Regions from separate parts of the Homo sapiens genome. Here region 1 is linked to region 2. Evidence: fine-mapped expression QTL. A gene starts in region 2. The other region holds a variant in brackets. All regions are shown on one strand. Distances are between the middles of the regions.

Evidence for each region. PIP is the estimated chance that this variant, and not a neighbour inherited with it, causes the effect.
Region 1: its variant is fine-mapped to the expression of DTWD1 in whole blood (INTERVAL, PIP 0.98).

What each region holds. Positions count from the first base shown.
Region 1 is chr15:49,657,842-49,663,234 of GRCh38, reverse strand. No RefSeq gene overlaps it. Among named protein-coding and RNA genes, the nearest start is that of DTWD1, 39 kb to the right of the region's middle. The variant T/C (reference allele first, on the strand shown) is at 2,492.
Region 2 is chr15:49,617,708-49,623,100 of GRCh38, reverse strand. It overlaps DTWD1 (DTW motif tRNA-uridine aminocarboxypropyltransferase 1), which reads right to left and starts at 2,053. Exons shown (of 5, transcript NM_001144955.2): 1 at 1,979-2,053. It overlaps FAM227B (family with sequence similarity 227 member B), which reads left to right and starts at 2,283. Exons shown (of 16, transcript NM_152647.3): 1 at 2,283-2,401. RefSeq lists an enhancer at 1,822-1,941.

The DNA of each region.
Region 1 (5,393 bases), 40 kb before region 2:
GGAAAAGGAGAAGGTCATCTATGATGATGGATCCATTTCAGAGCATACACATGAGCCACAGTGTGACAGGTTAAGGTGAAAAAGACTTTGAGGAGAACAAGAAGACTGCCAAAGGATCCCCAGATGGGAAGATCTAGATGAATCTGGAAGAAGAAATGATTTGCACTTCCAACATGGGATGTCATCCTTAGGGAGTACACATGAAATTCAGGAGAGGGGGACATAAGAAATTTGAAAAAAAAAATAAAATGACTATTTAAAACTTTTAAGTAAAAGTTTCATTTACTTATAAAATTTAAATGTAACAGAAGGAGAGTGTGGGATACTTATATTTGTGAACAGAGAATGTGGGTGTTTTTTTTTTCTTTAAGACTGGAAAATACTTCTCTAATCTACCCCTCTAACTCATGGAATAGAAGGAAGCAGGGAGGAGTGTGAGTGAAAAGTGAAGAAAAGCTCAAATTTGATATCTAATGCAGTGGTTTAAGATATTTTTTTCCTCATTATGCCTCAGTGTTTCCCTCTATAGTAAAAGGGAAGTAGCCCTTTGACTCCAAAGTTATTAACTTTTAAAAGAGATAGAAGGACATGTCTTTCAAAATTGGGTAGACTAGAAAACATATTTAAAGCCTGTTTCCAATGAGAAATTAAATAAAATATTTAATGTCTGTTTGCAAAGAACAAGAAAACTTGTACATTTCCTAAGTAGGTTTTGACTTTTCCTCTTTAAGCAAAAAATAGAATTTACTTGCAGCATAAGGGTAAACTTAGGATCAAGAATTATGTTTGCTGCATAATACCTAGCAGATTTTTAGACCTTTTAGGAGCTTTTCATGTTTCGTTGTGGCATAATGGAAACAATATCAACTGTACAGTCAGAAAAATCTGAGTTCAAAATCCGACTTAAACTTCTACTGCTGGCCAAGAGTAATCCCACTACAACCTATCTTTCCCATTGATTCTAGAACACTTGACTAACACTATCAATCAACCTGATCTAACTGTAAAGCAGACTCCAAACTTTTTTTTTCAATTGAAAATGGATATTCATGAATATAGATAATATCCTGGACTATAATACAAATCCTAAAAAATTAAAAATAATTGAAATCATACAAAGTGTATTCTCTAATCAAATAGGTATTAAATTAGGAATCAATAACAAAAATTCTGGAAAATCCCCAAATACCTGGAAGTTAAGTGGCACACTTCTAAATAACCCATGGGTCAAAGGGGAAGTTTCAAATGAAATTGGAAATTATTTTGAACCGATTGAAAATGAAGATACAACATGTCAAAATTTGTGGGATGCAGCTACAGCTATGTCCTTCTCAGCAGTGCTTAGAAGGAAATTTATAGTATTAAATGTTTATATTGAAAAAGCAGAAAAACCTCAAATCAATAATCTAAGTTTCAAACTTAAAACAGTAGGAAAAAAAGCTAATTAAACCCAAATCAATCAAAAGAGGAAAAGATAAATAGAATAAATCAATACAACTGACAAAAAGTAAAGGAAACAAAAGGGAACAAAAAACTTGTTCTTTGAAATGATCAATAAAATTGATAAATCTCTACTTAGATTTATCAAGAAAAAATAGAAAACTATAGACCTTACAGGCATTAAAGGTAGAAGAAGGGAATCCTACAATCACTGCTTATAGATTCCACAGGTTAGATGAACTGAACCAATTCTTGAAAGAGACAAACTGACAAACTCACTCAAGAAAAAAGTTAACCTAAATGTTTCTATATCTGTTTCAAAAAATGAATTTTAAGTATAAAGTTTCCAAAAATAAAAAAGTCCAGGCTCTGATGGTTTCCCTGATTAATTCTACCAAACATTTAGGAAAGAAAGAATAAAAATCTGTAAATACAAAAATTGCAAGTCTTCAAGAAAACTGGAGATAACACTTCCCAACTCATTTTAGGAGGGTAGCAGTACCCTGATACTACAACTACAGAAACACTGCACAAGAAAACTATGCCCCAATATACCTCACAAACAGAAATGCAAAAATTCTCAACAAAGTATTAGCAAATCAAATGCAAAAACATAAAAATGATAATAAATAACCAAGCAAAGTCTATCCCAGGAATGCAAGATTGGTCCCAAATTAGAAAATACAATTAGAGAAATGTATTTTACCATATAAACATACTAAAGAAGAAAAACCACATATATGCAGAAAAAATGATAAAGTTCAAATTCCATTCATTGTATATTTTTCAACAGACTCTCAGCAAACTAGGAACATAAGGGAACTTTCTTAATCCCATAATGGGTAGCATGTGCACACATGCACATGAACATGCACATACAACTTAAACCTAGCATACTTAATGGTGAAGGTTTAAATTCCCTCCCTCCATGATTGAGAACAAGGAAAGGATGTCTGTTCTTATACATCTATCCAATATTCAAGTCCTGGCCAATTCAATTGATCAAGAAAAAGAAATAAAAAGCATACTTACTGAAAAGGAAGAAATAAAA[T/C]GTTGTCTATTCAGGGATGATGTGATTGTCTATACAGAAAATCCCAAGGAATCTAGCAAAATGTTCACAGAACTAATAAGTGAGTTTAGCAAATTCACAGGATACAAGGTCACTTTATAAAATAAATCACATTTTATAAAGAGATGGTCCCCAGCTTACAATAGTTTGACTTGTAATTTTTCTACTTTACAATAGTGCAAAAGTGATAGCATTCAGTAGGAACTGTACTTTGAATTTTGATCTTTTTCCAGGCTAGATATGCTGTAAGATGCTCACTCATGATGCTAGACAGTGGCAGCAAGCCGCAGCTCCCAGTCAGCCAGGAGATCAGGGGGGTAAACGTCCTATACTCTATAGTGTATTGTGTTGCTAGATGATTTTGTCCAACTATAGGCTAATGTAAGTGTTCTGAGCACGTTTAAGGTAGGCTAGACTAAGCTATGATGTTTGGTAGGTTATGTGTATTATGCACACTTTTGACTTAAGATTCTTTCAATTTACAGTGTGTTCATCAGGAATTAACTATAGTTAAGTGGAGGAGCATATGTACTAGCAATGAACATTTGGAAATAAAAAAAATTTTAAAACAGTCACAAGCAAGATAGATATATCTGGCATGTAGTGGATGCTCAATAAATATTTATTGAATGAGTAAGTATGCAATTGGACTTTCAAGTGTATTCTATTTTTGTTTTTCAATACACTTACATTTCAAGATATGTTCTTCTAGGTATTATTAACATGGTCTGATATCCTTGACAGTATAACAATTATTCATGGACAATAGCAGTGTAGAATAAGCTGTATAGCTAGAAGCAGCCAAACAGGCTTAAAACATTATATTGAATAATCTACCTTAATTTTGATTGAATTCCCTTTACCTGTGGTATTGAAATTGGTATTATATCCTTCTTGTAAGATAAACTTCTACGAAAATGTTAGCTTCATGTACCTCTGTGATATGTTACATGCTCTGTACACTTGGGTTAATTAACATTTATCATTAAAAATTAAAAATTATATCTGCATAATCTTAGTGACCTTAATTACACTGAACTTATTCACCTTTCGATGCAAATGTAGAGGGACAAATCTCAAGACTAACATTTCTGAAAATGGCAGTCTCCAAATTAGTAACCAGGTCCCCCCAAATTAGTATTATACACCTATTTCCAACCCTAATTTTAGAATGAAAATCACAGACAAGTGGTATCTAGTCAGACAAGAGGTGTCTAGTCAGACAAGATACCTCTTTGGTGAAGTCAATACATACAGGTTATTTGTGATTAATTTTAGTTTGTTGCATTATTACATTCCTAAACTGTAGTTTTTTAATAGCTGGAGCAATGTTCTATGTTAGTGGGTGAAGTGGGAAAGTTTATTTGAGACACCAAAAGGGAAACATAGCCTTCATTTTAAAGCATTCAGTAATGAAACTATTTTTATCTAACTATTCAAACAGACAAACGGGCTCTAAATATATAAATTTGTTGTCTTTGCTTTGCTTTACTCATTTCTTTCTCCCCTCCCCTCCCCTCTTCTTTCCTTTTCTTTTCTTTTTAGACAGAGTCTCGCTCTGTTGCCTAGGCTGGAGTGCAGTGGTGTGATCTTGGCTCACTGAAACCTCCACCTCCCAAGTTCAAGCGATTCTCATGCCTCAGACTGCTGAGTAGCTGGGATTACAGTCATGCACCACCATGCCTGGCTAATTTTTGTATTTTTAGTAGAGGGTTTCTCTATGTTGGCCAGGCTGGTCTCGAACTCCTGGCGTCAAGTGATCTGCCCACTTTGGCCTCCCACAGTGCTGGAATTACAGGTGTGAACCACTGTGCCTAACCCTAAATATATAAATTTTTTAAAAGTAAGCTAAGAGCTTTAAAAAACTTCTAAATATATGACTGGCTCATCTCTTGACATAGAAAGAACCATTACTTTATGTATTAAAATTGTAGTCAAAGCAAAAATTTTTATAACTACCAAAATACTTATTTGGCCAATAACCTAAAATCAGAAGACTGATAGGAATACAAAAGATTTACTGAAAAAAAAAGATTGATTGCACTATATTCCTAGATCAAAAGAAAATGGAGTTTGTCATTATTCTAGCATGGACTGGAAAATTAGACTACAAATATGGATGCAGCAGAAGTGTTTCTAAGATGGAAGTTTAAATCAATAAACATTTACATCAAAAAGAAGCTAGATCTGAAACAAACAACCTAAAGTTACACCTCAAGTACTAGAGAAATAAGAACAAAGCCCAAGGTTAGCGGAAAGAAGGAAATAATAAAAATCAGAGCAGAAATAAATGAAATATAGATTATAAAAACAATAAAGATGATCAATGAAACCAAAAGTTGGTTTTTATAAAGATAAACAAAATGGACATATCTTTAGCTCAACTAAGAAAAAAAGAGAGAAGACTCAAATAAGAAAAATCAGAAACAAAAGAAGAGACATTACAACTGATCCTACAGAAACAAAGTATCATACAAGAAGGCTACCGTGAACAATTATATGCCAATGATTTGAATTACCTACAAGAAATGGATAAATTCCTGGACACACACAACCTTCCAAGACTGAATCATGAAGAAATAGAAAATCCAAACAGACCAGTAACACATTAGGAGATTGAATCAATAATAAAAAGTCACCCATCAGGGAAAAGCCGAGGACCTGTTGGCTTCACTGCTGAATTCTACCAAATATTAAAAGAAGAACTAATACGAGTCCTTCTCAAACTCCTCAAAAATTTGAAGAACAGTGAATACTTCCAAAGCCAGACAAGAGCACTACAAGAAAAAAGAAACTACAGGCTGATATCCCTGATGAACACAGATGCAAAAATCCTCAACGAAATACTAGCAAACCAAATTCAACTAAAAGGGTCATTCACCAT
Region 2 (5,393 bases):
ATGTCATGAAAGTTACTGTGGTTGCCTGACATTTAACAGAAAACTACTGGTGAGTTTTTGGAGTTATCCTAGGGCACTGAAAGTGCATTCCTCCTAGAGATACCTCAGAAATATCACTTTGCAGTTCATGGACCTGCTATCCACATAACTAAATGGATATTAGTGAAGCTTTATATAAATAACCTTCCTCTAGAAAAATCAACCACCACAAATACCTGTAAGACAGTAAAAGAGAAATGTTTATGGCTCCACCTCTTAGTTCACCTATATACTCTCACTTATGGCTGAGGTGGCCACGTAGAAGAGGCCAGCAATTGTAAATCATGGGCAGCTCCCTCCAGTGGTCTCTGAAACTACATGATCAGGGCATCTGTCCTAACCGAGCCAACAGCCTGCCTCGACTGTGAGAAAATCATTGCAAATGATTTTATTGCAAATGGGGTTATTTAAAATTTTTAAAACATACTTGTTAACATCAAATATGTGCAAGGAAGTACAATTTGAGTCATGGGGGCTAAAAAGACTTAGAAAACATAAAGACTGTTCCTAAGGAACTAACAATTTTAACACCTTGATGGTGCGTCCATCATTCTGGAACTTAAGGCTAAAAATACATTAATTTTTTATTCCTCCTTCTACCCAATTTCCACCCCAAATTAATTATACTCACCAAGTTGCATCTACCTTGTATATAATCCTCTATCTTCACTCTCAAAGTCAGGATTCTAATTCAGTTCCTTATTAACTCATAGATGGGCCACAGCAATGTCTTAAACCTCTTTGAGTACTTATTATTAGTTCCACATATTTGACATGGAAAAATGCATTTATTGTGGAGGTACTTTAGTGAATCTATCCCCTCCAGCATTCAACTCTGTAAGAGCAGATTCCTTCCCTGATCTCACCTATTCCTGATTCTTATGCAACAGCAGGAACTCAACAAACACTTGTTAACTAAATCAAAACCATTCTGCAAAACACATCCAGTAAGCATCTCACTACTGAAGTATCTGACAAACTACCTTTATGGGCCGTCTGCAGCCTAGCACAAGTGGCAGGCTGGCAATTTTTTTTTCTCCAAAATAATAACAAAAAGCTTCTACCTCTTCCATTATTGTAAGCTGACTCACCTCCCAATGGAACACTATACAGACTCCCCTGTCCTATATTGTGGACCAATTCAGTATTAGAAAAAAACCACTTCCAATTTTCTTTAGAGTGTTTTTAAGAACTTGGTCACATAGGACCTACAGGTCCAACATTCATTTTTCATAATCCAAGGTAGTAGTACCCTTTTTCATATAGGATCAATGGCCTCTCCCACACCACCCGCCATATGGTAACAAACTGTCTTGCCTTCGTTTTCATGGTGCACTGGGTTAGTCCTTACATGCTGCGATCTACAGTATTGATTTTACCATCCAACTTTGTGGGCCTGGCGACTGAAAATGTTAATATACTTCCTTATTTGTCCTACATTCCCAATAAATAATTTAGACGTAAGAAACAGGCTCTTTTGCTTATTATGTAACCACAACCTCAATATTTTAAATACACTGCATGGCATCACTAATTCTACGTCTGTACTACGCTTCCCCTTCCGTGATAACCAAACCCCCACAAACCACTCCAAATACTAAAAATAAAATAAAATAAAGTATGGGGTTCCTAGGGAACTGACTTTGCCAGGACATACTTTTCGTTGGGGCGGAATGCACCGAAAATCATTGGTAGGAAAAATAATTTTTTTTTTGAGGAAAAATTTGGAAACCTTTTTCCCAAAGGGCCCGCAAGATCCTAAAAAAAGCAAGAGACCGCGCAGAAACCGAGGATCCCCCTCACAGGCGACACCCAGCGCGACCTCCGCTAGGGTCCTGACAAAGAATGTCCACTTCCCGCGGCCGCACCTCTGGGGCCAGACCACTGGTCTCCAGAGAGGCGCGGGGACCTCCACCAGGGATCGGAGTGGTACTCAGACCTGCACACCCGCGAGTCCTCGAACAGCTCCACACGTCTCCAGCTCCGCCCGAGCCCGAGCCACGCGCCGGGCCGTGATCGCGCACGGACCAGACGGAGCGCTTTCCGGGAGACACCAGAGGGAGGAGCCAGGCAGTTACTAGCGTCGTTGCTAAGGCAGGGGCCGCGCACACCGCACACCGCGCGGCTTAAGCAACAGGCTGGGACGACAGCGGGGGGGGGGTTAGACGGGAAGTTCCGCCTCAGCCTCTCAATCAGCGGCGGTGTCGCACTTCTCCCGAGAGGCTCCGGCGAGGGGCAGGGCCGCGTTCGTCCGGGACCCGCCTCAAGCCTCGCAGCCTTTCACCCAGTTTCCTCCCGATTCTTGCTGGGACAACAAAATTGGGAAGCGGTTCTCGAAACATACTGTCAAGGCGTAGTTGCAGTGAGTTGTGAAGAAATGTTGATCCCAGAGAAAAGTTTGCATTTTGCCCACCTCAAAGATATTTTGATTGTGAGAACTTGGTTACATTAGTCTTTCGTGGCTATATCAATATCATTATTTCGTGTGCTGTGTGGTAATGAAAGCTATTAGAAAAATCATTTGTATCTTAATGATTTAGTTTGCATAAAAACACGCATATAGAGTTAAGAGTACTTTGTGTTTTTCCACTTTGAAGTATAATATGTGGATAAGTTATTAGAACATTTGTCCGTGCCTCTCCCCAAACAATGCGCAAACGGAAGTGCACTCTAACAACTAAGATTTTAAAACACAATGGTCAAATGTTGAGCAATGTTTTATTGACTACTCTGAATTTATCAAGTGGTAGATAAAGGACATTACAATGCCCTAGAAGTGCTCACGATATCAAGTAAAGCATGTTAAATTCAAGTACAGAAAATGCAATATTCTTACTACTGAGATAAAAAATGGAATTTAATAAATTACAGGAATTTCAAGAAAGCTGAGAATGGAGTGGTCAATAAAGGCTTCTTTTTCGGACTTGGGTAAGGCCTTGAAGAATGATTTAGGTTTAGGACAGTGTTTTTCAACTGGAAAGGGGATTGTGTGGGACCCATTAGTGGAGGTCTTGACCCATTTGTAAGCAAGGAAATCTCTTTAAACTTAAAAAAAAGAAACAATATAGATTGGAAATATCAGCGCATGTAAGTAAATTTAGTGTTAGTTAGTAAAGTACTGCTTTATGGAGCTTTTAATTGTATATATGCGTGTATGTGTGCACTAGGGCTTGTTTGTAAAATGTATTTCTTACTGTATTTCAAACCTTAAAAAGTTTGAAAGCCAGTGATTTAGGGAGAAAGGTGAATTTTCTGGGTAGGGAAAGTAGAATAGCAAAGTCTATAAGCCAAGAAGAATTCACAACCATTTTCCTTTTTAGTTTAACTCTAAATTTTATCAAAGTAGTTAAATTGCACAGATTAAAAAGCAAATAATACTACTTGTTAGATTGAGCATTGGGTTGCTATCGTATGTAATAAATTACTCCAAAATATGGTGGCTTAAAACAACCATTTTATTATGTTCACAGGTGGTGTTGTCAATAGGGCATAGTCATCAGCTTTTCTTTGGTAACTCAATTAGAAAGACTAGAGTGGGCATGCTAGCAGAGCTTCTGTAACTATATGGCCGGGGTTTCCTCACAGTATGGCAGCAAGGTAGTCAGACTTCTTAGCTTAAACTCAGAGCTCCAAAGGGAGTGTTGCAATGAACAAGGCAAAAATTGCCTGACCTTTTCTGACCTTGCCTCAAAAAGTAACGCGGTGCTACTTCCCCCACTTTCTTTTGCTTACAAATGTGTCAAAGTCCTGTTCCATTTTAGGAAAGGAGACATAGATCCCTCTTCTCAAAGGATTGGCAAAGATTTCTTGTCCATGTTTTAAAACCAGCATAGTGAATTTACTTCTGTAACAGAAAACCCCAAAATATCGGTGGTTTAATACACTTTTTTTTTTCCTCACAAAAGATCCATTGTGGCTATTTCTAGGCAGACGAAATGTTAAATTCAAGGCCAGATGTTTTTATTTTTAATGGTTCTGCTGCCTTCTAGGACTAGCTTGTTTGACAAGAAAGAAAGTATGGCAAATTACCCAAGGTTAACTCTAAAAATGACATGTATCAATTTGGCCACATTCTGTTGGCCAGAATTTAGTCCCAAGGCCCCCACTTTAACTGCCGGGGATCCTGAGAAATGTAGAGAAACACACACATATTGGTGAGCACTAACAGTTTGCCACATTCTAGGTTAAAGAAAACCCTGTAGTACCCAACCCTTCTACTCTATTCTCAATTCTTCTCACCAAAGGAAAATTCAAGTCTTTTAAATATTTCATCTGTTACCCCCATGTCTAAATATACTTACATTGCAGTTTCTTGATTTTCCAATTTCAGACATTACCCACTGACTTTCTCCTGTGGAAGGCAGTGATAAAGGTCTTTTGTAACAACACCACCTCCAAGTGTGTGAACATTCCCTCTCTACCTCATACACTCTTCTTGTCCCTTCACCTGTCAATAGTGATATCATAGGCTTTGGCTAAATCAACATTTAGTGTTATCACTACTGTCTAGGTAAATGTCATTCAACCCCAAGGCACATAGTATACTAAGATCGCATTAACTTTTAATACAACTTTTTACTTTCCTTTCTCTTAACTGCCATTTTTAATGTATTATTTATCTGTTCTCAAACACTGGCAAACTGCTAAAGCATCACAGTGAAATACATCAGTTAATCCAGTAGATTTTTTTTCCTTACAGATACTCTTCCTACAGCGTTACAGCCTTTAGTTTATTTAGGATTGCTGGTTTCTCCAACATAATACTGCTCTCCTGTGTGTTAGATCCCTTGTTTCCTTTTTCTTTGTTTAATCCCTTTTTAAAAATGAACTACATTCTCTAATACCTTCTTGGAAAAAGGTAAATAGGAGTGTAGTAGATAGAATAATGGCCCCCAAAGATGTCTATATCCTTACCTCCAGAACCTGTTGATATTTTATATGGCAAAAGGAACTGCATATGTGATTAAGGAGATGGGCTAAATTACCCTGGATTGTCTGGGTGGCTGGACATAATCAAAGAGTTCTTATGAGAGGAAGACAAGATGTCAAGAGAGGGGAGAAGACTCTACACTGCTGGCTTTGAAGATAGAGGGAGGAGCTCTGAGCAAAGGATAGCAGGTGACTGCTAGAAGCCCCTTTTCTCACAAAAAGATCTTCTGGGAGAAAAAATTATGTGTATTAAGCCATTGATATTTTGTGTTTTTTTTGTTACACAAGTAAATTTACTATGCTGGGCGACAAGAGTGAAACTCTGTCACACACACACACACACACACACACACACAAAACATGAAAGGAGCATAGCCCTGCAGACCCATTTCAGATTCCCGACCTCTAGACCTGTGAAATAATAA